5 separate regions of the Homo sapiens genome follow, and all the other regions are linked to region 2. Evidence: fine-mapped expression QTL. A gene starts in region 2. Each other region holds a variant in brackets. All regions are shown on one strand. Distances are from middle to middle.

Region 1 (6,145 bases), 120 kb before region 2:
ATCAGACCAATTTCCTTTTTCAGGAAGCTACTGCAGGGTGTGATCCAATAAAACAAGGGAGAAAACCAAGAAAAGGGGAAGACATGAGATCTAAGAAATGACCAAAAAGCAGACAAGAAAGAAAGAAATAGGATGATGGTGAAGGAAGATAAAGATGACAACTATTTATCAGACTTGAAGAGCAACAGACCAGAACAGAGCAAATAGATGCTTCTATTGAGATGAAAAAACAGACCTGATAGATTATTTTATGTGGTGATAGGTGACAGTACATGCGGAAGTTTGTTGTTTTTTCTGTTGTGTGTGTGTGTGTGTGTGTGTGTGTTTTGTTTTGTTTTGTTTTGTTTTGTTTTGGAGACAGGATCTCACTCTGTCACCTAGGCTGGAGTACAGTGGTGCAATCACAGCTCACTGCAGTCTCGATCTCCCAGGCTTGAGCAATCCTCCCACCTCAGGCTCCCCAGTAGCTGAAACTGCAGACGTGCACCACCATGCCTGGCTAATTTTTGTATTTTTAGTACAGATGGGGTTTTGCCATGTTGCTCAGGCTGCTCTCAAACTCCTGGGCTCAAGAGATCAACCTGCCTCAGCCTCCCAAAGTGGTGGGATTACAGGCATGAGTCACCGCACCTAGCCTGTGGAAGTTTTTAAAGGGCTAGTGAAGAGAGAAGAATTGGTGCAAGGGACAGAGAAAACCAAGTAAATAAAACCAATTGCTTTTGTTTTTATTTATTTGCTTTCTTGTTGTTGTTCCACCAAAGAAGTAGAAGGCAATCAGTAGCTCAGTTGTAATTTACACTGGCATAATAATATAAACACCAGACCCTGATATCACCATAGGACCACCATTGTGGGAGGTGAGGGAAGAGGTTATATATGGAGGAAAGGAAAAAGTAAAGTGTTGGTGGAAAAGCCAGGTCTAATCTTCTGCAATAAGAAGTTCAATAGACAGTGTGTAAAATTGGTAGGTAGGGGGATATACAACAGTATAAACATATCATTTAGAAAAAGGGCCAGGTGCAGCAGCTCATGCCTATAATCCCAGTGCTTCGGGAGGCCAAGGCGGGAGGACTGCTTGAGGCCAGGAGTTCAAGACCAGCCTGGGCCACATAGCAAAACCTCTATCTCTACAAAAAAAAATTTTTTTAATTAGCCAGGTGTGATGGTGCATTCCTGTAGTCCCAGCTACTTGGGAAGCTGAGGTGGGAAGATCGCTTGAGCAGAGAAAGAAGAGAAAGAAAGGAAAGTAATCAGATGATGGTGAAGAAAGATCAAGATGACAACTGTTCAGACTTGAAGAGCGACAGACCAAAGCAGAGGATGCAGTGAGCTATGATCACACCACTGGACTCCTGGCTGGGTGACACAGCAAACCCTTCTCTCTAAAATAACAAAAACCCCAAATGGAGATAAAGCCCCATTGTTACAAGTGGTGGACTCTGAGAAGCATTTGGGGTGGAGTATGGTAGGAGAATGCTCTTTTAAAACTCTATTACTTTGATAAAAATAAACATAAACACTGTAAACCGAAAATAAAATTCTAAGTCCTTCCAACTATCTGAATGGACATCCTCCTTGGCCAGGATACTCTAAAGTTTAACCTGAAAGACTGGTTCAGATCATGAAGGGAAATGGGGATCAGACATGCTTCATTACAACCCTCCAGCATTAACTTCAACACAGACCTTATGTCTGATAAGAAATACTTACAACCTATTCTCTCTGAAGCCTGCTACCTGGAGGCTTCATCTAAATGATGAAACTTTGGTCTCTTATTGCAACATTCCTTTCTATTGATAAGTCTTTCAATCAACTGCCAATTAGAAAAATTTTAGATCTACCTATAACCTGGAAACCCCAGCTTCAAGCTGTCCCACCTTTCTGGACCAAACCAATGTATATCTTAAATGTATTTGACTGATCATATCTCCCTAAAATGTATAAAAACTAAGCGGCGCCCTGACCACCTTGGCCACATGTTCTCAGGACCTCCTGAGGACTGTGACACGGTCATGGTCACTCATATTTAGCTCAGAATAAAACTCTTCAAATATTCGACAGAGTTTCACTCTTTTCATTGACAACATCAAATTTAAAGAAAAAAAATACACCACGCACAATGGCAACAAAACTATAAGTGAGCTATGAGTAAATATAACTAAAGAGTAAAAGACTTATATGGAGACAATGTAATGTACTGACTTTGGAGGTGTTTGAACCAGAGTGACTCCATCTTGTATAGAGGCTGGGTAAAAGATAAGTCTGAGACCTACTGGGCTGCACTCCTAGTAGATTTGGCATTCTAAGTCACAGGATGAGATAGGAGGTGGCCACAAGATACAGGTCATAAAGACCTTGTTGGTAGAACAGGCTGTGCCAAAGAAGCCGGCCAAAACCCACCAAAACCAAGATGGCAACAAAACTGACCTCTGGTCATCCTCGCTGCTCATTATACGCTAATTATAATGTATTAGCATGCTAAGAGACATTCCCACCAGCACCATGACAGTTGACAGATGCCAGGAAGTTACCCTATATGGTCTATAAAGGGGAGGAGCCCTCAGTTCCAGGAACTGCCCCCTGCCCCTGCCACCTTTCCTGGAAAATTCATGAATAATCCACCCCTTATTTGGCATATAATCAAGAAATAACCATAAAAATAGGCAACCAGCAGCCCTCAGAGCTGCTCTACCTATGAAGTAGCCATTCTTTCATTCCTTTACTTTCTTAATAAACTTGCTTTAGCTTTACTCCATGAACTCTCCCCAAATTCTTTCTTGCATAAGATCCAAGAACGCTGTCTTGGGGTCTGGTTCAGGACCCCTTTCCAGTAACACTGAGATACAATAAAGAAGATCTAGATCAATGGGAATATACAACTTGTTTCTAGATAGGAAGCCCAATATTACCAAGGAGATCTTTCTTCTCAAATTAATCTCAAAACGTAGTGCCATTTTAATGCAATAGTTGTTCATAGAACTCAAGGAGGTAATCCTAGAATTCACAGGAAATAGTCAAGGGCCAAGAACATCCAA[G/C]ACAATTTTGAAGAAGAATGAGGACTTATTCCATCAGATAGTAAAACTTCTTGCAAAGTTACAATTAAAATAGTGAACAGATAGACAAATAGTCCAATGAAACCAGAAGAAAGACCCCAGCAACAGAACACACATTTATAAAAACATACAGCAAAGGTGGTCATCAAATCAGCGAGGTGAGAATAGAGGGATTTTTTAAAATAAGTAATAACAAGATGACAGGCTCCTCAGAAAAAGAGTACAATTGGGCTCTTGCCTTATAACAAACAATAAAAGGAAATTACAAATGGATCAAAGATCTCAACATCAAACAAAAATCTTTAAAACTTTCAGAAAAGTTAAGACCATATATGACCTCACCATAAGAGTTTTTTTTTTCTTGAGACGGAGTCTCGCTCTTGTTGCCTAGGCTGGAGTGCGATGGCGCGATCTCAGCTCACTGAAACCTTCCCCTCCCAGGTTCAAGCGATTCTCCTGCCTCAGCCTCCTGAGTAGCTGGGATTACAGGCATGTGCCACCACACCCAGCTAATTTTTGTATTTTTTTGTAGAGACGGGGTTTCACCATGTTGGTCAGGCTGGTCTCGAACTCCTGACCTTGTGATCCACCCGCCTCGGCCTCCCAAAGTGCTGGGATTACAGGTGTGAGCCACTGTGCCCAGCCAAGAGTTCTTAAATGAGGCATAAAAAGCAAAATCCCTAAAGTAATCGATTAATAAATTTGACTAGATTGCAACAAAAAAGTTTTGCATGACAAAATACATCATTAGAAAATGAAGCGGTAAAGCAATGACTGAAAGACTGCGAAATAGAAAAATGAGCAGAGAATGCACAGGAAACCCACAAGAGAGGAAATTCAAATGGTAAATAAACATTTGAAAACAGACACGACCTGACTAGCAATGAAGGAAATGCAAATGCAAGTTAAATCCAAGGTGTGGTATTTCACACCCTCGGATGGCAAAAATAAGAAGTCTGATGTGTTGGCAAGGCAAATGGAAATTCTGATACTCTGTGGGTGGCAGTCTGCATTTGCAAAACCTCTCAGAAAAACAATTTGACACTATTTAGGAAAGTCCAGATGTACATTCTCAGACCCAGATATTTTCCTTCTAGGTATATGGACCCAAGAAATACCCAGGCCGGTACACGAGGGGACAGGCATAAGGATAAGCATTACACCATTGCTTAGAATGACCTAAAGTGTCCACCAATGGAGATAAAGGTGGCCCATGCACATGCTAGAACAGTACGCAGCAGTTAAGATGAACTAGCTCTACATGCACCAACACGAAAAAAACTCAAAAACACATTGTGTGAAAAAAGTAAATTACCAAGGTATAAATATCGTATGGCACATCTCATGTAAGTTTCAAAACAAGACATTGCTAAACAGTATTTTGGATATACACACGTTAATAAAGATTTTAAACATGCTCATGGGAAACACATACCAACCCCAGAACAGTGGTTGCCTCCAGGAAGAGAAGGAAAGAAGGGAAAGGAATTGGAAGAACACACAGGATTTTTAATGTCAAATAATGTGTTATTTCTGACTGACATGTGGCCAATGTTAATACTTGTCAAATCCAGAGATGGTAATAAGCACATGAAAAATGTTCAGCATCATCAACCTTCAGGAAAATACAAGATAAAAGCACCATGGGAAACTACATCATACTCCCTAGAATGGCTAAAAGAATTTTTGTTAATGCTGGCAAGGAGGTAGAACAACAGAAGCTCATACGCTGCTGTGATGAGGAAATTGAAGCAGTGACTTCGGAAAATAGTTTTGCCATTTCTTATAAAGTTAAATGCATGCTTACCATATGATCCAGCAATTTCACTCCTACGTACTTATGCCAGAAAAGTGAAAATGTGTCCGAAAAACCTATACACAAATGTTCACAGCAGATTTATTCATAATAGCTAAATCATGGAAGCAACCTAAATGTCCATCAATTGACAAAAGGATAAGCAAATTGCAGTAAATTCAACTAATGGAATTCTCATTAGCAATAAAAAGGGGTGAACCATTGGTACAACAATGAGGATGAATGTCAGACATTATCCTGTGCAAAAGAAGCCACATTCAAGAGTACATACTGCATGACACATTTCTGTGAAACTCTAGAACAAACAAAACTAACCTAGAGGATAGAAATCAGATTCAGAAGTGACCTGGAGAGATGAGTGGGTACAGAGGAGAGAAACTGACTGCAAAGGGGCAAAGGAGAGCTTTCTGGGAAGATGTCTTACACACTGACTAATTCAAGTAGTGGTTGCAAGGGTGTATACATTTGTCAACTCATTGGCCTGTACGCATGTAATAAATTTCATGAGAAATTATAGCTCAGTAAAGTTGATTTTAAAAATACGAATGGCAGATACATTTGTTAACATCTCTGTAATTTTCTGTAGACTTAAATATTTTATTAAAAATTAAACAGACTTTAGGCCAGGTGTGATGGCTCATGCCTGTAATCCCAGCACTTGGGAGGCTGAGATGGGTGGATCACTTGAGGTCAGGAGATCAAGACCAGCGTGGCCAACATGGTAAAACCCTGTCTCTACTAAAAATACAAAAATTAGTTGGGTGTGGTGGTGCACGCCTGTAATCCCAGTGACTCGGTGATGCAGGATTTTTCTCGGTCCCTTTGCCAGTCAGGGACTTCTGGCTGGCGATGCCAGAGGCCTTGCCCAGGGCATGCTATCTGCCGCAGGAGGTGCCCTGCCCAGTTGGCCTTCCCAGGCCAAGTCTGGCTTGTGCACTGATTCCCAAGTTCTTGTCCCACATCCAAGAAGAATGAGGATGCACTGAACATTGAAGTGTGAGGAGGACAGAGAAGAATTTTATTGAATGATGAAACAGCTTTAAATACAGAGGGGACACAGGGGTGGTCCCCCTACCTGAAGGCAGGAAAGTCCCCCATGTGGCTGGGTCCAGGGCCTTTTATGGACTCAGAATGGGGAGTGCATGCTGATTGGTTTGTGAGTATGCAAAAAAGGTTAAAGCAAAGACACCACGCAGAAGTGGGCCTGGCAGTACAGAAAACCAATTAGGAAAGGGTAGGTATACATAAAATAGGTGAAGGGTAGGGATCAATCAGA
Region 2 (6,145 bases):
AGTATCCAGTGTGCACACAGTATTCAGTGCCTCCCTCCCCTCCACCAAGATGGGGTTTCCTAGTATCACTCTTTCTATCAGGGTGAAAGTTCCGCTGGAGTAGGGAGCACATTAGAGATGCCATATTCATCTGTGTACCCACAATCCCATCCCTAGGCCAGGAGGCTAGTACAGTCCATCTGTCTGTACTTGTTTCTCCAACAGCTGCCCTGGCCTTCTGAACTCCATGCTCCCAAGCAAGCTGAGTGACAGCACCACATTGGCTGACATCTCATGAGGTTCGCCATCTCCAGTATCTATGGGCCCCCTCTCTAGTCTCATGAGTCCAGATGCTGGCCAGTCTACCCACCAGCCTGGGGACCTCTGCATTCTCTGAGTCTGCCCTTCAGGACTCACCCCATCCCAAGCAACTCTGCTTGCATGTCCTCTATCTCTACCTAGCCTTCAGCCTTGAGGTCCAACTTGCTCATGTAGGAGGTTCCCAGATGCCAAGCACCTGACCCACATGCCCCCCTGTTGAAACTGCATCTGCTTTGGCCCTGAGAAGAGTCCCACCCAGTACTTAGGATACAGGACTCGGGCCCACTGTGGGAAGACCCCCAGCTGGTTCTGAGTAAAGTCACACTTTGGGGTTAGCAGGGAAGATCCTCCAAGTTGCTCCTGGATGCAGCTGTCCTCGTTTTAGCCCTAGAGGTTCAGCCTCCCCTTCGCGGTGCTGTCACCAACATGCTGACCTCAGGGGCTGCGCATGCCCCTTTTCCCCATGGATCCAGACCCTTCGCTCACACGCTGTTTGGCATAGTTGAGCCCGGGCTATCATGTTTAAAAAAGGCACAGGCGCAGGGGGTGATACTCAGTCATCTGAGCTGCTAACAAAACACGCAAGCATTACTAGTTGGGGAGCTGACTTCGCCTCTCTCATATTCAGCTTGCTTGTCTATAAAATGGGGGAAGTACCTCACCCTTCACAGAGCTGTCAGGGAACTGGTGATAACGTGCACACACTGTGCCAAGCAGGTGCTCAGAAGTATTGCTCACGCAGATGGATGCTTCTGTTGCAAGTTACTAGTCAGGAATGGTCTGAGAGGCCCTGAGACACCAGAGATCTCTTACCTTTGTATATGCCAGAGGATGGGACAGACACACCCAAAACTGTCCCAGTTGTTAATTCCGCTTGTCCCCTGGCCCTGGTCCATCGTCCCTTTCCCGGAAGAAAAAGCAGCACTCCACTCTTGCTAACTAACACCTACCCAGCCTCACCCCTACACAAAACACAGCTGGCTCAGTCCAGCCAGGGATGCTCCTCACCGGACAGACATCCATCAGCCAAATTTCCACATCAGAATTTCCTGGAAAAGGGTGACCACCCGAAGAACTCCCAAAATACGTATCTATCCCAGGGCTTCAAGCTAGAAACAAGGAGGCCCCTTGCTTCTCATGTAAGAAGCAATACGTTCGCTTTCTTTTACATCCGAATCTCGGGAAAGGAACTGGAAAAGCCAGGGCAGGGCACACCTGAGCCTCTCCTACAAGTAGGGTATCTCCGGATTCTCCAGATACAGAACCAAGAGGGTTCCTGCAACATACTCTGCTGACAGCCCATGAAAGCTCATTCCAGCAGCCCCTAAACTTTGCTCAAATGCTACTGATGCCTTTAGGAGAGATTTTGTTGTTCTCTGGACCTGAAAGCAATCTAATGTACTTTTATAAGGCCAGGCTCTTGCTGACAATGTTGCCACAGGATACATCCTCAGGCGGACTCACCCTGTAACCATTTCACTTCTTTCTTTCTTCCCCCCGCCCCCGATGAATTGCACTGAGCATTCTCAGTCAAAATTTGCTACTTTCTCTGTGAAGTAGGTCAAGAGTTAAATAATAAATAAATTCAGCCTCCATGATTTCTTCCGGCAGTGTTTTACCAGAATGTTTAGGAATACTGACACCATTGAAGGTAACTGTTAATTTAGTCTTTACAAGAATCCTGGGGGCAGGCGGGCTTCTAGTAAAGGGGATGTCCTGGAAGGTCACCCCCCCACACACAAAGGACTTTAGAAACTTCGGGTCTCACTCAGGCTGTGACTGCGAGCTCAGTGATTAGAGGACAGCCTGTCACATAGACAATAAACAGCCAGCCGCCTTGCCTCAGCAGGTCCTGTGCAGCCCTGGGGCCAGGCCAGAACCCCAGGAACAAGCCACTTTCGGGTTCTGAGCCTTAGCCTCGGGGAGCTGGACCAGGGGAGCAGGCAGTGGCGGGGGGTGCTACGGCACCCCAGGATCAAGCCTGCTGAGGGGGCTCGGGCTGGTGGCCAGCAGGCTCGGCTGACCAGCAAGTGGGTGGTCCCGAGGCGGCCAGGCAGCCTGACCCAAGGCAGCACGACCGTCCACGGGTCATCAGGCTCTAGACTCCGGGGTGGAGACGCGGGGCTGCGGGACCGAGTCGGTGCCACTTTCTCGCACCCCTGATCCTCCGTGCCTCTTCCCAAGACCGCCAGACCCTTCACCGGCCCCTGCCACTGCCGGGAACGCTCCCGCCTGCTCCTTAACTCACACAGGCAACAAGTTCTCGCTTCCTCAGAGCAGCCACGGTGTGCTCCGGAGGCCCGGCGCAAGGTGGAAGCTCCCCGCGAGTCCGCGTTGCCCACGCCCCGAGGGGCGCCCGCTGCCGTCGCTGCCCCCCAGGAGCGTGGAGCTACAGGTAGCGCCGGCAAGGGCTGCCCCCCGGGGCGCCCCTCCGACCGGGACGCTGCGGCATCCCCGGAACGGGCAACAGGTACGCGAGCGCACCGAGGACCGCAGCCCCGGCTCCTACAGCCCCGGCCCTCGCCCCTTACCTCCAGCAACTGCACGTAGCTCGCCGGGAACCAGCCACGGAGCCCGTCCTCCTTCTCGCCTTCCCACCAGCCGCCGTCCGGGACCTGCAGCAGCGTGATCAGCTCGCCCGCGGCGAAGCGCAGCCCCTGGCCGTGCCGCTCCCCGGAGAAGGGGTACAGGGTCCGGCAGCGAGCGCCGGACATGGCCTTGGCGCCCGGGTTCACAGCGCAGCCTGCATTCCCGCCGAGCCCCACGGGCTGGGCAGCGGCTCCGCGGGGTCCCAGGCGCCCGGCGCTCCGGGCTCCCGCGCTCTGGGCGCGCGCCGTCTCTGGGGTGCGCGGGGGTCCTCAGGCAGGCGGGGGACGCGCGCTCCGCGCCGGGAAGCAGAGACTCGTTGGCTTCGCAGAGCGAGCGGCGACGCCCCCGGGCCGGGCAGCTCGCGGATCCTAGCTCTGGGCTGGGGGGCGGGGCTCAGGGGGAGGAGACCCAGGCGCCGCGGGCTCCGGAGACAACTTCCCGGGAACGCGGAACGCGGGCTGCCGCCGCGAGGGCTGGCCGGGGCCGGGGCCGGGACCGGGGCCGGGGCCGCCCTGGCGCGCGGAAATGCGCAGCTCCCCCGGGAGGTGGGACCCGGAGCATCCCCCGCGGCAGGACTCCGCGGCGGGCGGCCGTGGAGAGGAGCTGGCGGCCGGGTGGCCGGGCGGGGGTTAGCTCACTGGCGAGGGGGCGGGCCGGGGCGGGGCCAGGGCGGCCACGCCCGCGGAGGGCTGCGCGCTCCCTCGCAGAGGGGCCTGTCACTGGGGAGAGGGGCTCCCACTCGCGCCCCCACCGCCGGGGACCGCGGGAATGGAAACGCCCCTCTGTTCTGTGCCTGCTTTGTAGGCCTGGCGGCCCGTGGCGTGCGGGCGGCTTCTTCGAGGTGTCTGCGAGGGATCGTTTGTGGTTGTCATTGTAGTGGTTGAACCTGGGGTTGAACTTGTCTCACCGGAAACTGAACAATGGGTGAAAGACAGGTTTGAAGCCTGGCGCCTGAGCCCAGCAGCCTGGTGGCAGCGTGGCACGCTGGAGGGACGGAATGGAGAGAAGACGGGGTCGGAGTTGATAGAATTGGAAACAGTCGATGGGGATAAATGGAGGAAAGGCGAACGGTGAGAGGAACAGCACCAATGCTTTTACTTGCAGAGGGAAGGCCGGCCCAGGGTACCAGCCCTCCCGAAATCGAGATGGGTTGGCTAAAGAGTCTACACTCATGTAGTCAGTCAACAAACATTACCAGGAGGCTGCCATGTTCCATGCGATGTGCCAGGTACTACAAACATCATTTGGGCCAGTCCCTGCTCTCCAGGGACCAGTGAACCTGAGTGCTGCAGAATGTTGACCTTGAACTGACCGTACAGAAGTAAAAGAAAGCTTGGTTTCTTTGCTAGTCTACTCCATAAAAAATTTTAAAGAAATAAAATAAAGTACATTTTTTAGCCTGTAAATAGCTGGACTCGGCCAGGCGCGGTGGCTCACGCCTGTAATCCCAGCACTTTGGGAGGCTGAGGCGAATGGCTCACTTGAGGTCAGGAGTTCAAGACCAGCCTGGCCAACAAGGTGAAACCCCATCTCCACTAAAAATACAAAAATTAGCCGGGCGTGGTGGCGGGTGCCTGTAATCCCAGCTACTCAGGAGGCTGAGGCAGGAGAATGGCTTGAACCCGGGAGGTGGAAGTTGCAGTGGGCGGAGATCATACCACTGCATTCCAGCCTGGGTAACAAGGGTGAAACTCCGTCTCAAAAAAAAAAAAAGCTGGACCCTTTAATACGCCTGTATACCTCTGTCTACTCCTTCCCCCCTCCCCCAGTCACCTTCTGTGGCTCCCTATTGCCTTTTAAATTTGGTACAAACTTCTCTGCCTGTACATTTCAGGCCCTCCACAACGCCTCCTCTAGCTTCACCTCTTACTATGACTGCCTAGATATCCATTACAAAACCAGTCAGGCCGGGCTCCAAGAGCCTGAAGATCTTGCGCACCTGTCTATGCTTTGAATCAGACCCTGGCACAGAGCCTTTCACCTAGTTCAATGGTTCTCAATCCTGGCTGCACATTACAGTCATTATGCAACTTTTTAAAAATACTCATGCCCAGGTTTTAAGAGTCACTACTGAGCCCTAGTCTGCAGCTAAGCCATCTCACCTGAGCAGCCTCCATCTGTTCTCTGGCCATGGGCAAAGTGACACAAGCAGATTATTTGTAATAGTCCATCAATTGCAAAGTCTTGAACATTCGCTTGGCCGGAAATATAAAGAAACAAACTCTTGACCACAGTCACCACTAAGAGTCCCTTAAAGCGGAGCTGCATAACTTCATATCAAAAACAGTCATTAAAAATAGCTGGCCCAATGAAGTTTTAAAAGAGATACAATTCCTTGTATCAGGAAAATATGTGACTTCCAGCAGGCTGTTCTGAGGCTTCATTCCTGATGATGTGGCCTGAATCAAGGTAGGACAACTGATTTCCAGCCATCCTGCAACCCTAATTCTCTGCATGCCCGTGAGGAACTGTGATCCAGTTTGGACTTGAGAAATCGCAGCCTACACAGCATGCCATACACTTGAGTTCTACCTGACCCACCTCAAACATTCCTGCAGCAACCAAAAATGATAATAGCTGTTAATTTCTCCACTTAATTCATTTCATTCCTGTAATCCTACGAGCTGATGAGGTGACTGTTGTCCCAGTTTTCAGGTAAAGAAACTGGGCTCAAAGAGTGTGACTTGCTCACCATCATACAGCTGGTCAACAGCAGAATCAGCTTTGAACTCAATTCTAGCTTATTGTACACTGGTGTTGCTTTCTGTCGTCCCCCCTGCCAGTCAGAAAGCAGGTATCCTAGTGACTCACCCACAAATAGCATCTTAAGAGAAAGTTCTCTAGGCTGGGCACAGCCTGTGAGAGCTTATGCCTGTAATCCCCACACTTTGGGAGGCCAAGGCGGGCGGATCACGAGGCCAGCAGATTGAGACCAGTCTGGCCAACATGGTGAAACCCCATCTTTACTAAAAATACAAAAATTAGCTAGGTGTGGTGCCGCGTGCCTGTAATCCCAGCTACTCAGGAGGCTGAGGCAGGAGAATCGCTTGAACCTGGAAGGTGGAGGTTGCAGTGAGCCGAGATCACGCCACTGTACTCCAGCCTGGCGACAGAGCAAGACTCCATCTCAGAAAAAAGAAAAGAAAAGAAAAGAAAAGACTCTCTGGTGATACCCAATGTCAGTCTTCATAGAAATAAGACTGGACTAGCAGTTAGTGGAACTCCTGTTGCTGATCTCTTATCAATCAGGTAACCT
Region 3 (6,145 bases), 89 kb before region 2:
TAATCCCCAAGACCATGTCTAAAATTCAACAGTCTCAAACTTTGCTGAGGATCAGAATCACCGGGAGAGCTAATGAAGAACACACAGGTCCAGGCTCACGGAAGCAGGATAGAGTCTGAATCTCTGTACTTTTTCCACCTTCCTTAGGAGATTTGAGATTTGCATCTTTAGAGCATTAGACCTTCAACATGAATAGCTCAACCTCTCTTCATCCTCGCTCCCACCCACACACCCTTCCCAGCCTCTAGTTAAAGATCACTTAACCAATTCCAGCAACTCAGAACTCCTGGGGAGTGACCGACTTGGCGAATAACGTCCTCTCACACAAACCTGCTCTTCTTCAATTATTAAAAGATACCCGCTGTGGTAGGCTTGAAAGTGCCCCCCCCCCCAAATATATTAATATCTTAATCACCAGAACCTGTGAATGTTACCTTATATGGCAAAAGGGACTTTGTAGGGCATGACTGACTTAAGGATTTTGAGGTGGGGGAGTTATTCTGGATTATCTGGGTAGGTTCTAAATGCAATCACAGGGTCTAAGAGGAAGACAAGGTCAAAGAAGAAAGAGGCTGATGCCACAGTCCCACTGGACTGTGGTAAGGTGGTTCCTTACACCAAGGTGGAAACAGGCGCCAAGGAAGGAGTTCAAGAGGATGAAAACAGGAAGGAACAGATTCTCCTTGGAGCTTCCAGAAGGACCAGCCCTGCCGACACCTTAATTTTTAGCCTTGTAAAACTCATTTCAGACTTTGGATCCTTAGAACTATGAGTAAATAAATGCATTTTAAGTCACTGCATTTGTGGCATTCGTTACAGCAGCAATGGGAAACTAACACACTTCCTCTTACATAACACTACAAGGTGAAGTTCTACTTTGTCTGTCTTGCTGGGCCTCCATTAACCTTTATAGGAACGGCCCCAGGTTCAAGAGGCCAAAGACGAGACACAGAGCCAGCCAATGAGACACAGGGTTTTATCAGCTGGAAACTTACATACAGAGTGGTCCAGTGGTGGCAGGCTGGGAAGGAGAAGTAGCTTATATACAGTCCAGTGGTGGCGGGCTGGGCAGGAGAACTGCCTTACACACAGTCCAGTGGTGGCGGGCTGGGCAGGAGAACTACCTTACACATAGTCCAGTGGCAGGCTGAGCAGGGGAACCACCTTACACACAGTCCAGTGGTGGTGAGCTGGTTAGGGAAACCGCCTTACACACAGTCCAGTGGGGGGCTGGGCAGGAGAACCGCCTTACACAGTCCAGTGGTGGTGGGCTGGGCAGGAGAACTACCTTACACACAGTCCAGTGGTGGCAGGCTGAGCAGGGGAACCACCTTACACACAGTCCACTGGTGGTGAGCTGGTTAGGGAAACCGCCTTACACACAGTCCAGTGAGGGGCTGGGCAGGAGAACCGCCTTACACACAGTCCAGTAGGGGACTGGGTAGGAGAACCACCTTACACACAGTCCAGTAGGGGACTGGGCAGGGGAACTGCCTTACACAGTCCAGTGGTGGTGGGCTGGTTAGGGAAACCGCCTTACACACAGTCCAGTGGGAGCTGGGCAGGAGAACCACCTTACACACAGTCCCAGTGGGGGACTGGGCAAGAGAATCACTTTACCACAGTCCAGTGGAGGGCTTGGCAGGGGAACCACCTTACCATAGTCCAGAGGGGGTCTGGGCAAGAGAATCACTGTACCACAGTCCAGTGGCGGGCTGGGCTGGAGAACCACATGGCCCAGCGTGGCCAGCTAGGCAGGAGAACTGCAAGCACTTGCCTGAAGCATGCAGTTTATAGAGCATTTTTGCTTTGCATCCTCTCCCTAACAACCTCCACCTGGCAACCTTCATTTAACCCAAAAGAAAGGGCCTTGGTCCTCCATATGGCCTGTGTTCCACTGGACGGGCCAAGGGCTCAGATGTTTCTCATAGGTAAGGAATGAATCTCTGAGTTGGCCACTGCCTGATTCTTTAGCATGGAAATCCACACACACATTCTGGTGCATCTACCACACAGGGTCGTTCTCAGGGTATGCTTAACTTATTGCTGTCAAGTGTGTCTACCATGCACTGTGATTTTCTATTTAATGCATGCCCCAGTGAGCATTTTCTTTGAGCATCATATAGTCCTGAAAAAGTTTCAGATTTTGGAGGATCTGTCTTTGTATTTAGCTCAGATATTTAAAAATTGCACTGCAGAGTAACCAGATAGCATGACGTTCATATAAAAACAGGCACGTAGACCAATGGAACAGAATAGAGAATCCAGAAATAAATCCATGTATTTACAGCCAACTGAGTTTCAACAAAAGCACCAAGAATACACATTGAGGAAAGGACAGTCTCTTCAATCAGGGGTGTTGAGGAAACTGGATATCCATACGTAGAGGAATAAAACTGGACCCCTATCTCTCACCATATACAAAAATCAACTCAAGATGGATTAAAGACTTAAACTAAGGCTCGAAACTATAAAACTACTAGAAAGAACACTTCAGGACATTGGTCTAGGCAAAGATTTTACAGTTAAGACCTCAAAAGCACAGACAACAAAACCAAAAATAGACAAATGGGCCCATATTAAACTAAAAAGGTTTTACAAAGCAAAGGAAACAGTCAACAAAGTGGAAAGACAATCTATTGAATGGGAGAGAATATTTGAAAACTATTTATCTGATGAGGGACTAATAGCCAGAATATACAAGGAACTCAACAGCAAAAAAAATTTAAAAAAATAAAAATAAATAAAAATAAAATAACCATTAAAAAGTAGGCAAAGGGCATGAATAGACATTCTCAACAGAAGACATACAAATTGCTAACAGGCATATAAAAAAATACCCAACATCACTAATCACCAGGGAAATTCAAATTAAAACCACAACGAGCTATCATCTTACGCCAGAGTTAGAACGGGTATGCCTGGCTTATTTAACTTAAGGTAACATAATAACCTCCAGTTCCATTCATGTTGCTGCTAATGACAGCCGTTAGAACAGCTATCATTAAAAAGATAAAAAATATCATTAAAAAGATAAAAAATAACAGATACTGCCAAGGATGAGGAAAGATGGGATCTCTTGTACACTACTGGTGGGAATGCAAATTGGTACAGCCACTGGGGAAACCAGTACAGAGACTTCTCAGAAAACTAAAAATAGAACAACCATACCATCCAGCAATCCCACTGCTGGGTATTTATCCAAACAAAAAGAAATCAGGATATCAAAAGACATCAGGCCAGGAGCAGTGGCTCACGCCTGTAATTCCAACACTTTGGGAGGCCAAGGCAGGTGGATCACCTGAGATCAGGAGTTCAAGACCAGCCTGGCCAACATAGCAAAACTCCGTCTCTACTTAAAAATACAAAAACAGGGCCAGGCGCGGTGGTACACGCCTGTAATCCCAGCACTTTGGGAGGCAGAGGCGGGTGGATCATGAGGTCAGGAGTTTGAGACCAGCCTGGCCAACGTGGTAAAACCCCCTCTGTACTAAAAATACAAAAATCAGCTGGGCGTGGTGGTGGGCGCCTGTAATCCCAGCTATTCGGGAGGATGAGGCAGGAGAATCACTTGAACCCGGGAGGTGGAGGTTGCAGTGAGCCGAGATTGTGCCATTGCACTTCAGCCTGGGCGACACAGCAAGGCTCCGTCT[C/CA]AAAAAAAAAAAAAAAAAAAAGATATCAAAGAGATACCTGTACTCACACGTTTACTGCAGCATGATTCACAATAGCAAAATTATGGAATCAACCTAAGTGTCCATCAATGGACAAGTGGATAAAAAAATGCGGTATATATACACCGTGGAATTCTATTCAGCATGAAAAAGAAAGAAATCATGTCATTAGCAGCAACATGAACGGAACTGGAGGTTATTATGTTAAGTTAAATAAGCCAGGCATAGAAAGACAAAGATCAGTGTTCTCACTGATATGTAGGAGCTAAAAAAGTTGCTCTCGTGGAGATGAGAGTAGATAGTTAACTAGAGGCTAGGAAGGGTGTGTGGGAAAGAGGGGGGATGAAGAGAGTTTGGTTAAGGGGTACAAACATACAGTTAGACAGAAGATATAAGTTCTTTTCTTTTTTTTTAAGACGGAGTCTCGCTGTGACACCCAGGCTGAAGTGCAATGGCGCAATCTTGGCTCACGGCAACCTCCGTCTCCCGGGTTCAACCAATTCTCCTGTCTAAGCCTCAGCCTCCCAAGTAGTTGGGACTACAGGTGCATGTCACCACGTCTGGCTGATTTTTGTATTTTTAGTAGAGACGGTGTTTCACCATATTGGTCAGGCTGGTCTCGAACTCCTGACCTCAAGTGATCTGCCCGCCTCAGCCTCCCAAAGTGCTGGGATTACAGGCATGAGCCACTGCGCCCAGCCAGAAGATACAAGTTCTAAAGTTGGATAGCAGAGCAGAGGGATTATAGTTAGCAACAATATATCACACATTTTGAAACAGCTAGAAGAATGTTTGTTCCCAACACACAGCAATGACTGACGCTAAGGTTATGGATACCCCAAATACCCTGACTTATCAATTATTATACATTCTATACATGCAACCAAATATCACATCTACCCCATAAATATGTAAAACATTACGCGTCGATTAAAAAGTAAAATAACACAAGATGCTCTATTTAGACAGGGCTAGTTTGCTTTGGTGTCCACAACTTGTAGGTCAGTAACTGCTGTGTACATCTATGGATATCAAAAGTCCTTAAGGGGGCCGGGTGTCTTGGCTGGCACCTGTAATCCTAGCAGTTTGGGAGGCTGAGATGGGAGGATCCTTTGAGGTCAGGAGTTCGAGACCAGCCTGGTCAACATGGTGAAACCCCGTCTCTACTAAAAATACAGAAATGGCCAGGCGCAATGGCTCACGCCTGTAATCCCACAACTTTGGGAGGCCGAGGTGGGCGGATGATGGGTAAGGAGATTGAGACAATGTTGGATAACACAGTGAAACCCCGTCTCTATTAAAAATACAAAATAATAGCCAGGCGTGGTGTCGTGCACCTGTAGTCTCAGCTACTTGGGAGGCTGAGGCAGGAGAATGGCATGAACCCGGGAGGCGGACGTTGCAGTGAGCCAAGACTGTGCCACTGCACTCCAGCCTGGGTGACAGAGTGAGACTCTGTCTCAAAAAAACAAACAAACAAACAAACAAAAAACCAGAAATATACTTGGGAGGCTGAGGCAGGAGAATCGCTTGAACCCAGGAGGCAGAGGGTACAGTGAGCCGAGATCACGCCACTGCACTCCAGCCTGGAGACAGGGCAAGACTCCGTCTCTAAATAAATAAATAAGTCTTTAAGGGAGGCCTATATTCCAAGGGAATTGCGACCCTCCTTGGTGGGTCTGGCAGCCTAACCCCAATTGTGTTTCCAATAGGCGAAATTCGGGAGTTCCAAAATTGGACCAGGTCATGGGGCCTGGATACCCTGATGAAGAACTGCTGCCGTGTTTCGACTTGAGGAAACCTAGACCAGATACACTCTGCTTCTTAGACTCTTATTTTCATGCTAAAAGCATACAGTTTAGACCTGTGCTCTCCCATATGGTAGTCAGTGGACACATACAGCCCCTCAATATAAATTAATCCAAATGAAAGAACCACTTCCGCAGTTGCACCAGCCACATGTTAGTGGCTACCGTACTGGGCGTCACAAAAGTAGAACATTGCCATCCTCAGAGAGTTCTACTGGGCTGTGCTGCCTGAGGGCATCTCTCCAGGCATTCTTTGCTACAGCTTCACCTCCAGCTCCCTGACTTAGAAAAGCCTGGGAGCAGAGAAATGCTGTCACTGCATCCAATTCCACCGTGGATGCATCCTCGAGCACGTGACCGAAGACACACAGCGAGGGATGCTTTCCAGGGGTGTTTGCCCACGTGTGGGGCTTTTCACTGAAAAGACTCTATCTTTGGAAAGGGAGAGGCAGAAGACACAGAACACTGGAAAACAAGAGGAAGACTCAGGCAGGAGCAAGGTAGGGCAGATGGAGATGAGAGAGAGGAGGGAAGTAGGAAAAGATAATAGGAGTAGCATGTAGAAAATGGAGTCTAGCCGGGCGCGGTGTCTCACGCCTGTAATCCCAGCACTTTCAGAGGCTGAGGTGGGTGGATCACCTGAGGTGAGGAGTTCGAGACCAGCCT
Region 4 (6,145 bases), 280 kb before region 2:
CATCCGTCCCTTCCCCTCCCATCCCTGGATTCTTTCTGCACTACCAAAAACCCACCACGCGCCAAAAGGCGAGTGTGAGCCCTAAGAACAGCTTGTGGGCACAGCTGGCATTTGGAGGAGGAGCCTGGGGAACTGAAGGAAGCAGCAAGCTGGAAGTGGTCGTGCAAACAAGTTGAAGACCCTGGGCCAAGAACTTCCAGGGCGAAAGGCTCAGTGTAAAAATAAAGAAGCAGAGTAGTACGCCCATGCAATGAAATACTTCCCGGCAAGGAGAAGGAACAAACCACACGCACACATCATGAATGACTCAAAAGCATTAAGCTGAGGGAAAGATGCCAGACTCAAAAGGCGACATCAGTGTGACTCCATTTATATGACATTCTAGAAAAGGCAAAATTATAGGATCAGATAATCAATCAGGGTTGCCAGGGAAAGAGGGCAGGAGAAGGGAATTTTTTGGAGGGTTAAAAACAGGTTGATCTTGGTGATGGTCACAAGACACTAAATTTGTCAAAATTCACAGAGCTGTATATTTCCAAAGGGTGAATTTTACTGGATGTCAATCATACCTCAATAAACCTGGGAAAAGGTGGTGGCGATGGGCCTTGTAGGGATGGCAAGGATTATGGGGATAAGACGATGTCCAGGCTACGTGGGGGGGCAGCTGATCTGTACCCCACTTAACATTAGAAGTGCTCTCTCCGACCTACACAAGGAATGCATCTTGAGCCTTCTGTTTAAACACTCCTTGTCAAGACTACCTGCAGCTGGAAGTAAAATCACCTAAACAAGCCAAGGTCGCTGATGTCCTTCGAATGTTATGGCTTGTATTTCCAAAAGGGACTTTGGCTCAGCCCAGATTTTTCTGCATCCATCCACTCATCTAGTAATTGATTGGTTTTCACAAAGGGTAGGGAAAGAAACCCCTGGTTGGTGAATTCGTTGGTACACTGTTTCGGTGTGCCCAGCTGTTTATCAATCCTGACTAGCAGAGCACTGCCTCCCACCGCAGAAATTCTCCTTGGCCAACAGGGTGCTGAGTGGAGGTAGAAAGGAGGCCCAGGGTGGTCCCACTGACAGAATCTCAGGGCCGCCATCCCCACGGTCCAAGGGGCCTATGTGTTGCCACTGACTGAAAGCACTAGAAAGAATAGAGGGTAACAAGTGGCTCTTCCTGGAGGTTGTCACAGCAACCAACTTGGAACACCATTTGGCTTAAGGAATTTTTTTTTTCTTTTTAAATCAGGCTTTCACAAACAGATCTTGTGCATCAGTCTCCTGGGTGGAGGCAGGTAGAAGGGGCTGACTTGTTCTCAGAAATGGAAGGGACATTCTCAAGAATAGCCCAGACCCGCCCACTTTGAATAAACCCAGCTAAGTCCTCACCTAAGCACCAAGACATAAAACAAAACAACAACCCGGATAGCGTGCTTGCCTCTCCAAAGTGCAGTCTTTTATTTTCTCAGTTGCATCCTAACCTTGATTTCAACCAGAAACGGGCCCCTGTTCATACGGATAGGGGTTCTGGACTGTTGACTCTAGCCCTGGTCTTAATTCACTGGCAATTTCATAGCCTCACTGGTTACCCTTGAGCTTCACTTTCCTATTTGCAAAGAGTTATTTATAATTTTTTTGAGATGGAGTCTTGCTCTGTCACCCAAGCTGGAGTGCAGTGGCCCGATCTTGGTTCACTGCAATCTCCGCCTCCCAGGTTCAAGCGATTCTACTGCCTCAGCCTGCCGAATAGTTGGGACTACAGGTGTGCACCACCACATCTGGCTAATTTTTTGTATTTTTAGCAGAGACGGGGTTTCACCATGTTAGCCAGGATGGTCTCGATCTCCTGACCTCGTGATCTGCCCACCTCGGCCTCCCAAAGAGCTGGGATTACAGGCGTGAGCCACCGTGCCCGACCCTTATTTGTAAAGAGTTATTTAAAGCAAACAGAGAAATTTCTGAAATTCGAATTGGATATGGGCCGTGAGGGTCTGGTGACCAGGTGATTAAAATCTTGTTGCTGTCTACCTTCCATCCAACAGGTAAATGCCTCACGACGGTGGTTTATATTATAATAAAGAATCCCAGAGGGTTAAGTGTGGAGAGGGTACAATGTTCTTATTATACTCTTCTCAGTCGACATGGAGAATAGAGGAGAGCAGAGGAATGCCCATCTTACATACAACTAGAGCGCCGCTTCTCAGCATGCCTGGCTTGTCTTGAGCATTCGCTGAATGAATGCAGATTAATCAGAACAACAGACTTACCTCTGAAAACTTAAATTCTGTAGAGTGCCTATGTATCAATGCCAAGGTTGCTGACCGGTAAGACCCCTGAAAACGAGCGATCACGGGCTTCCCTGACGACAGGGCCATTATAGTGTCCTCAGATTAGATCTTAGCACAATGGCTTTAACCTGCTTGATGAATGAATAACAGAGGGAAGAAAGAAAGGAAGTACGTGAAGGGGGTAAAGAGAAGGAGGTGAGGGGATGAGGGGGGAAAGAGTGACCTCCAAAAATGGACTGGCCCAAACTGGGCCAACCTGAGCTACCCTGGAAGACGCAAGAGGGCTCACTCTATCCCAGGGATGAACAGAGGACTCTGGAATCCTCAGATGTAATGGAAAAGTCAATGAGCCATATTGTACTCAAAATATCTTGTTAATAACAAGGCTATTGGCTTTGAATGTTTGGAAATCATCCACAGAGTAGTTTACTAAGCCACAAAGCAATTACCACTAGCACCCATTTTTCATAAAGAAACCAAGAAATAATATTCTAAAATTGGTAGCTGGTGTCATGACCCAACCCCAGATCTGGACAGAGTGGTTCTCCATCCCATGGACAGATCCTACCAGGAGGTCTTCACGTAGGTGAAGGCCTTTGTGCTGACCTTTTTGGTTGCAATGTTTCAAGAACAAGAGAAAAGTGACAACGTTTGGTTTACTTTAGTATATTAGGCATTTTTCTAATGTGAACTATACGAAAGCAATTCTCATTCAATGAAAGAGGCGCCAAAAAATTAGAGATTAATAAGTCATCGG[T/A]TTCTAGCACGTTGACTGAAAGACCAGTGAGTTGTGCTTGTTGAATTCTGCCCTCACTGCAGATGTGCAGGTCAAACCCAAAGTGGTCAATGGGAAAGATGAAGAAAGATGGATTTCCAGGGCATGGGCTCCCGACTAGAATCTGCCCCTCGCTCATGCTTCTCCCGGCCCCTTTAGACTCTTTAGACTGACATGGTGGAGAATGTGTTTGCTGTGGTAGAGAAAGGGAGAAAGTAATGAGCTGGGCCAAACAGCAGCACTGAAAGCTTCCCAAGTCACACTCAGACCAGACTTTTCCAGGGATTGGAAGATGGAGAGAGGGAAAGGAGGTGCAGACACCAAGTAAGGGTTTGGTGCAGGGCTCTGGAATGTCCAGAAGGAGCGGGAAGCAAAGGTGGCGGGACACTGCCTGAAAGGCGACAACCTAGTGTGGCCACAAGAGAGTCTGCTATGCCTGTCCAGTGCCCACCAGTGACAGAAAACTGTACAAGGGACAGCAGTCCCAGCCCTGCCATACACAAGAAGACAGAGCCATCTGGGGGATGGCAAAGACTTGCCCTAACCCATCTCACATGTAGGACTGACCCGGCCCCATTAAGAGCCTGTGGTGGGCGGCCCGGGAGAGTGGGGGCCAGGGCAGCCCAAAGGTGCACAGGGCACCGTGGCGGACAGGCCCCAGCTTGCTGGCCTCTGAGACGAGCTGGTTTGTTTCCATCCCTGAAGCCTTTGGACGAGCTGGATGAGGTCTTGATAACTGAGAACTTTGGAAAGCTTCCTCTAATGAGACTGGGAAGGGCTGGCAGGGTGGGGGCAGGGGCCTCCCCGAGGAAGCAGCTGGGGGAAGGATGGATTGGCATTTCCAGAGGAGACTTTACAGATGGCGCCTGATCTCATGGGACACGATTCAGCGCTCAATTTGGGGCTAATTTGCCGAATGAGGTAGTTCCATCCTGACCTCTCCAGGCATGGTGGGTCTGGGAAGACAGGAGCCAAGCCTTCCTCCTAAAACCCCTGGTGATGAACAGTGGCTGAGAAAGCCAGATGTGGACTCCCAGAATGCAATGGGAAAAAAATAAAGAAGGAGGGCTGCAAAGGATTCTGGGTGCGGCTGTGAGCTGAATGGCACCTTCTACCCATGATTCTGATCCTGACACCTGGCTTAGAGACAGAGCCCTCCCTACCCTGATCCTCCAAAGCCCTGGAGACAAGGGAGCCAGCTGGAGGAAGAGCCTTGGGGCTTCCAGGGCACAAGCATGTGACAGTGACCCCTACAAAACTCGGCAAGGACCACAAAGTTCCAGCCTCTGTTTGTTTCAGAGCGGCAAGCACAGCATGGGAGTCAGGGGGTCTTCAGCCTCAGAGACAAGGGCAGGGCTGTGGGTCTGTCTTCTGGGCCTGGGAATATGGGGGAGCCCCCAGCTAGGCTGTCCGGGTCACCCTTCTGGAATCACCAGCTCTCTCCCCTCTCCTCAGTGGCCCAGGAGAGAGGGTGGGGGGCATCCACTCGGCATGGGCCCCATGGTGGGAGCCCAGCCCCCCTCCCCAGCAGGACCCCCCGAAGCTGCACAGGCCCATCTAGATCTCCATGTCCACAGGGCGGATGTTGCCCGTCTTGTGCTCTCTGACCCACAGCTCCCTGTCTTTGGCCGGGTCCACTTTTCGAAGCAGCTGATCCACGGGCTCGACTGTCTGCAAGAGACAGAGAAAATGCGACACTGTTAGAGACGGCGGCCAAGCCAGGGAGGTCTCCTCTGAGACATGCTGTCCTCACCTTAGTGTCTCTGAGAGCAGCCTCTCTAGAGGGCTCCGGGGCCCCAGGGGGAGGCCCATCTGAGGGACAGCACATGAAGAGGGCTGTGAACGGGGAACCCAGTATGCATCCCGACCCTGCTTCTCACCCTGCAGACCCCAGGCCTGGATGAGAGGCCAGGAGGGCCTTAAAACCTGTCTCTATCCCTTCCACCCCACATTTACCACCAGTGAACAGGACAAATAAAACTTGAGCTTTAGGTATTGTGAATATTTCTAGAAGTTGTTTTTTTTGGTTTTGTTTTTTAAGAAATTTAATAATGTCTTCAGCTACTGTAACTGTTACGAGCTTCTTTCTCCTCAGGGTAACAGCTCACGTGTGTGTCCACTTCATGTGCCAGGGTCGGAATCACACAGACGTCCAGGACAATCCTGAGAGGCCCAGTCCACGAGGCCACCCCCAGGCCAGAGCACCTGCCCACTGCCCGCCTTTAGGGCAGATTCACTTGCAGCAGCCACTTAACCTGCCACGGCCTAGCGCCAGGCGGCTCTCCCCAGGCCCCGTGTCGCCCGGGAGCCCCGCTGGGCTGGAAACTCACGCTTTGGTTGAACATGTCTGTTTCATGCCGCAGCTGCGTGTACTGGCACAGGTGCTGCCGGATCATCTCTACCCTCTCCACCTCCAGCCGCTCTAGCTCCTGCCGAGAAAGCAAAGGCCAGAGAACTCTGAGCACGTCCCCTCCACTTGGGGGTCCCCCCACCAAGACCACAAAACGCAAGTCACTGGCTGTGGACATTCTGTCCCATCTGACTCTCTGGGGTCTGATGAAGAGCGTGCCCCATATCTAAGGTGAAGGTGAAGCTGATGACAGCAGCAGCGGCTGTTTTACTTCCTGAAATCCTGCTCCGCCACGCACAGTGCTGAGGGCTTTACGTGCGTTCCTTAACTGTCCTCGTTACAATTTTAAGAGATCGTTTCTGTTATTATCCCCATTCTCCAAGCAAGGGAACTGGGGAACTAACACCTAGAGAGGCAACAACACAGCTCACCCAAAGCGACACGGAATTATGGGAGGAACAGGATTTAAACCAGAGTCCATCAGGCTGTTACTCATGGCAATGCACCCATGCAGCCCTGGCCCTGGTGCCCTGATGGGGTATAACAAGGGGGCACATGTGGGAGCTCCATGCCACACATTCCTGGGACCTTGTCCCTGGGCCTCTGCTGAGCAGCCTCCCTTCCTCTGCCTATGCCTAGTGCTGTGGCCGCAATAGAGACCGGGCCAGGGAGGCAGACTGGGCTGCACGTGGCACAGCTTTTGTCAAAGGGGAGCGTGGAAAGGGTTTGTCCTCT
Region 5 (5,221 bases), 71 kb before region 2:
CCTAGGCACCCCACACATGCGCACAAATCCCCACTGGCAGATCGGGGCTCTGGCCTGCCTAGCTCCCACAGCACACCATTTGCAGGTGGCTACAGATCTCATGATTTGCTGGCTCTCTTTCGGCCTGCAAATGCCAGGCTTAGCCAGCGAATGGGGCACTGGATATTCTCAAGGACTTGGTACAACCTTTCTAAAGAGCAGTGTGGGGCCGGGCACAGTGGCTCACGCCTGTAATCCCAGCAGTTTGGGGGGGAGCTGAGGCATGTGGATCACCTAAGGTCGGAGTTGGAGACCAGCCTGGCCAACATGGTGAAACCCTGTCTCTACTAAAAATACAAAAATTAGCTGAGCATGGTGGTGCGCACCTGTAATCCCAGCTACTCAGGAGGCTGAGGCAAGAGAATCGCTTGAACCCGGGAGGTGGAGGTTGCAGTGAGCCGAGTTCGCGCTACTGCACTTCAGCCTGGGTGACAGAGTGAGAATCCTCAAAAAAATTCAATAAATAAATAAAAATAAAGAGCAGTATGACACCATGGGTCAAAATGTGCACTTGAGTGGTCCACATTTCCTGGAAATTACTCTCCGTGCAAAAAGATATCATCACAAGGAATGGTTATCTTCAGTAATTTTTAATAGCAGTAAAAAAAAAAAAAGGGGGGGTGTGGAAGAACCTCAGTGTCCATCATAAGGGGATTGCAAATTAATAGTTTATCCAAATTGTGACTAACAAACACTAAAACAAACCTGTAAATATATTTAATGATAGAAATATATTCTGAGAATATTAAATTTAAAAAAAATAGGTCAAGGCTGGGCGCAGTGGCTCATGCCTATGATCCCAGCACTTTGGGAGGCCAAGGCAGATGGCTTACTGGAGGTCAGGAGTTCAAGATCAGCCTGGCCAACATGGTGAAACCCCATCTCTACTAAAAACACAAAATTAGCTGGGTGTGATGGTGTGCACCTGTAATCCCAGCTACTCGGGAGGCTGAGGCAGGAGAATCGCTTGAACATGGGAGGCAGATGTTGCTGTGAGCCAAGATGGTGCCATTGCACTCTTGCACTCCAGCCTGGGTGACAAGAGCGAAACTCCATCTTAAAAAAAAAAAGAAAAAAAAAAAAGGTCAAACAACTGTGTGTATAATATGATCATAAAAGGATAAAATGGGGATTGTTCTTTCTTTCCCAGTTGGATGAAAGAGGGGAGTAAAGGGTGATGGGGAGATGAGGAGGGAGGAGGGCAGGGTGGTGTAGAGAATGAGGCCCGGGTGTGAGGGGGTCAGCTGTGGGTGGGAGCCACTGGCCACTGGGGGAATTAGACTAAGTCTTGTTTAGCCTTCCTCTGGAAGGGCCTTAAAGGATGATGAAAACATCCGGAAAATATTTAGCTAGTAAATCTTTCAGAAGCCCCTCCACCCTGTGTTATTTATATAAACACTTCCCTTCCACTCCTCTCTACCCTCACATACACCCGCCCCGATTCCTATCACAGACTTGGAATCAGCAGAGCCAGAGAGAGCTGGACAAGGCTGGCTCCATGTGCGTTCTGACCACCACGGGTGCAACCCATCTGTGCAGTATGAAGCCTGCGCTGATGTGTTCCCTGGCCCCCATCGCAGAGCAGCCCTCTGACCTGCCAGGGACCCACAGCAGGGGTCGGGGGTGGTGGCCACACTATTTGGGTTCCCTGGCCACCAAATCTCCAGCAGTGATTGTCCCAGGGACTCAAGGAAGGGGAAGGGTTAAATGGGGGAGTCGCTTCTCAGACAGGAGAAAGTATTTGCTCTAATCCTGTCCGTTCTCCTGGAACTTCCTGGAGTTCTCAGGGAAGAAACCCTTAATGAATGGTGTGAGGGAAAGAGAAATCACATGCACATGAATGTGTGCATGCCACACACACACGCTCACACACACACTCATACACTCACACACACTCTTGCACACACACCCACACACTCACGCACATGCACACACAAACGTGCAAACACGCACACACAAACACGCAGATGCACACACGCGCGCGCGCACACGCACTCATGCACACACGCACACTCACACCCACTCACATACACACAAACACGTATCACACACGCACACACAAGCACACACACAAAGAGCGCACACACGCAGACATGCACACACTCTCGAAAACACACACATTCACACACACACGCTCACACACATGCAGACACACTCACACACTCGCGCACACACATATTCTCTCTCTCAAGATCTTCCTCCTGCTCCTGAGAAGTGCCCAGAATTCGGGGAAGCCACTCACTTGTTAAACAACAGCCTTCTTTTGAGGGTTAGGAGCCAGTCCCAGCGTGGGGCACGGGGAAGAGACTATGCTCCGGAACCAAGCCGGCTCTGACTCTAGTCCCAGTGAGAGCACAGCAGACAGTGAACCAGTTCTGGCTTCAAACCCCAGCTCTGCCGCTTAAGCTGTGTGACCTTTTTTAACCTCTTTGGGTCTCTGTTTCTTCCCCTAGAGAGTCCTGGTATCCTTGAAGGGAGATTGCATCAGAGGCTGGGAGTCTAGAAACCTGGGTGTGAGTGCAGGCTGTTTACTGGCCTGAAGGTTGGAGCCAGCCTGCTGGTAGGTGCTGGCCAGCACCTTACATTGTTTGTTGTTGTTGTTAGTTTAAATCAATTGGCAACATTACACAATTGGGAGAGTGTGGATTTCCAGCTGGCCATGTGTTCCCAATGACTGGCTGATGCTCCCTGCATTTTGAACCCTAAATCAAGTTAGTTTAACCTTCCACGGCTCTGGACAGTGAGTTAACAGGAAGCCCTGGGAAGAAGAAAGCAGTGCTTCCACGAGCCCCTCCTCAGATGCAGCCTCAGCTTGCGTCAGGGGAACGCCTGGTTTCCAGGGGCCCCATGTTGCCCTCTCACTTTTGCACAGCCTGCTGTGTAAAGATGAACCAAACATGGCCCAGGAAGTGAGTGTGCCAGCTGGGGATGAGCAGGTCAGGAGGCGGGGAGTATTGCACACCGAGTCCACGGCCTGGAGGAGACCTGGGCTCAAGTTCCTGTGGGGAACGCTCCATTTTTCTTTGCCCCAGCACCTCATCAAACAGTCCCACCCAGCAGCCCTGAAAGTATTTTAGCTGTGCACTCACAGAGGGACAGACTCAGGGCCGCAGGACACAATCCTCATTCAAGAATTTTAATTTTAAAGATACTAATCTGAACCAGGAAAACACCAGATCTTGCGCAGAAAATCCCCCGATTCCAGGGCTCTGATGGAAAGCAGGGGCAGAAGGCCCCCTCCAAGGTGTGAACCGACCCCAGTCTCTGTCCCCCTAAACCCCCAAGACTGGGCAAGCTCCAACCAGG[C/T]GAAGTGGACTAGGAGAGGAATCTCTGAGTAAATCGAGTAAATCCTGGAATCCCAAGCATCTCCTTGGAAATGCTGATTAAACACCAGAACCCACGCAAAGATCTGAGCAAATTCCAGGACCACCACTCGGGCCACATAAGCTCTCAACGGAGCACACACACACACTGAGTCAGACCCCTAAACATCTGGGGCTTAGCTAATCCTCTGCTCTCAGGCGTTCAGCTTGGATGGACTCCGAGGGGAGGCAGCACCGGCGAGGGATTCAGTCCAGTTTCCAGGGAGCCCAGCCAGGCCTGGGAGCCAGGGCTCGGCCCTACCCCGGCTGGGGCCCCCGAGTCACACACGGAGGCCATGCGTACATCCTCCCCAGCCCTCACCAGCAGTTCCGGGGCGGCTCCAGTGCCCAACCCACACATGGGAGGTGGAGGCCACAGTGCTCCAGGATTCCACTCTGCGGTGCAGACTTCGAGAGGAAACAATTTCCTAATCCCCTTCCTAAATCAAGGCCAAGAAACAACTTGTGGAGAGTCCACAGACGACTGTTCCCTCTGCCTGGTTGTCCCTGTGCTGACCTCTGGCTGCTCCCAGGAGCCATTAGAGGGAGTGGACGGGAGGGGTGGATGGGAGACCCACAAACCCACAGCCCGGGATTCCATACTTGATACAATCAGTTCTGAGTATCAATCCACAGATCATTGAATTCCAAAGCTAGCTGAGGCCAAATGCCTCCCCCTCTCACCCCCTTAACTAGGCCAGAACATAAAACCCAGCATTTCATTACTTACATTTATGCAACAACATCCCTTGCCTGTTTTCATTTTCAGTGAAATAAGTGATCGTTTTGCTTTTTCTTTTCTCTTTTTTTTTTTTTTTTGAGATAGAGTCACCCACGCTGGAGTGCAGCGGCGTGATCTCGGCTCACTGCAAGCTCCGCCTCCCGGGTTCACACCATTCTCCTGCCTCAGCCTCCCGAGTAGCTGGGATTACAGGCGCCCACCACCGCGCCCAGCTAATTTTTTGTATTTGTAGTAGACATGGGTTTTCACCGTGTTAGCCAGGATGGTCTCGATCTCCTGACCTCCCTCGTGATCTGCCCACCTCGGCCTCCCAAAGTGCTGGGATTACAGGCGTGAGTCACTGCACCCGGCCTGCTTTTTCTTTTTTCAAATTCCAAACCAAATGATCTTTTAACCTAAATAATCCTGATTGATTTGGTATCTCCCTGTGGGTCAGCAGACATATATGAGAAGACATTTTTTCACCCTTTGACTTAAATAAATAACATAGGTAAGAGGAGCCTTGATAGCAAAAACGCCAAGACCACTCAATGGGGGAAAGGGCCATCTTTTCAACAAACTGCTGCGATGAGAGATACAAACATACAAAAGAATGAAGCTGGACTCCTTGCTCACACGGCATACAATTAACTCAAAATGGATCAAAAGACTAAATGTAAGAGCTAAAACTAGAACACTCTTGGCCAGGCACCATGGCTTATGCCTGTAATCCCAGCAACGATGGGAGGCTGAGGTAGGTGCATCACTTGAGCTCAGGAGTTTGAGACCAGCCTGGGCAACGCAGGAAGACACTATCTCTATGAAAGGTTTAAAAATTAGCTGGGCAGGGTGGCACATGCCTGTAGTCCCAGCTACTTGGGAGGCTGAGGTGGGAGGATTGTTTGAGACCGGAAGGTCAAGGCTGCAGTGAGCTATGATCACACCACTGCATTACAGCCTGAGTGACAGTGAGACCCCATCTCAAAAACAAAACAAAAAAACTCTTCAAAAAAATAGGTGTAAATCTTCATGACCTTCTTAGACTAGGTGATGCCTTCATAGATATGACACCAAAAGCACAAGGAATCAAAGGAAAAAA

Evidence for each region. PIP is the estimated chance that this variant, and not a neighbour inherited with it, causes the effect.
Region 1: its variant is the best candidate, but not a certain one, in a credible set for the expression of GAS7 in whole blood (INTERVAL, PIP 0.81).
Region 3: its variant is the best candidate, but not a certain one, in a credible set for the expression of GAS7 in monocytes (Fairfax 2014, PIP 0.89).
Region 4: its variant is the best candidate, but not a certain one, in a credible set for the expression of GAS7 in whole blood (TOPMed, PIP 0.71).
Region 5: its variant is the best candidate, but not a certain one, in a credible set for the expression of GAS7 in whole blood (INTERVAL, PIP 0.62).

The regions. Positions count from the first base shown.
Region 1 is chr17:10,077,756-10,083,900 of GRCh38, forward strand. The region is part of intron 1 of GAS7 (growth arrest specific 7); the gene reads right to left. Among named protein-coding and RNA genes, the nearest start is that of GAS7, 120 kb to the right of the region's middle. The variant G/C (reference allele first, on the strand shown) is at 3,036.
Region 2 is chr17:10,195,377-10,201,521 of GRCh38, forward strand. GAS7 (growth arrest specific 7) reads right to left here and starts at 3,230. Exons shown (of 14, transcript NM_201433.2): 1 at 2,832-3,230. The coding sequence starts at 3,014.
Region 3 is chr17:10,106,400-10,112,544 of GRCh38, forward strand. All of the region lies in intron 1 of GAS7 (growth arrest specific 7), which reads right to left. Among named protein-coding and RNA genes, the nearest start is that of GAS7, 89 kb to the right of the region's middle. RefSeq lists an enhancer at 831-1,372. The variant C/CA (reference allele first, on the strand shown) is at 3,654.
Region 4 is chr17:9,912,611-9,918,755 of GRCh38, forward strand. It overlaps GAS7 (growth arrest specific 7), which reads right to left. Exons shown (of 14, transcript NM_201433.2): 13 at 5,391-5,489; 14 at 1-4,731. The coding sequence ends at 4,618. Among named protein-coding and RNA genes, the nearest start is that of RCVRN, 10 kb to the left of the region's middle. The variant T/A (reference allele first, on the strand shown) is at 3,043.
Region 5 is chr17:10,124,428-10,129,648 of GRCh38, forward strand. All of the region lies in intron 1 of GAS7 (growth arrest specific 7), which reads right to left. Among named protein-coding and RNA genes, the nearest start is that of GAS7, 72 kb to the right of the region's middle. RefSeq lists an enhancer at 2,823-3,540. The variant C/T (reference allele first, on the strand shown) is at 3,346.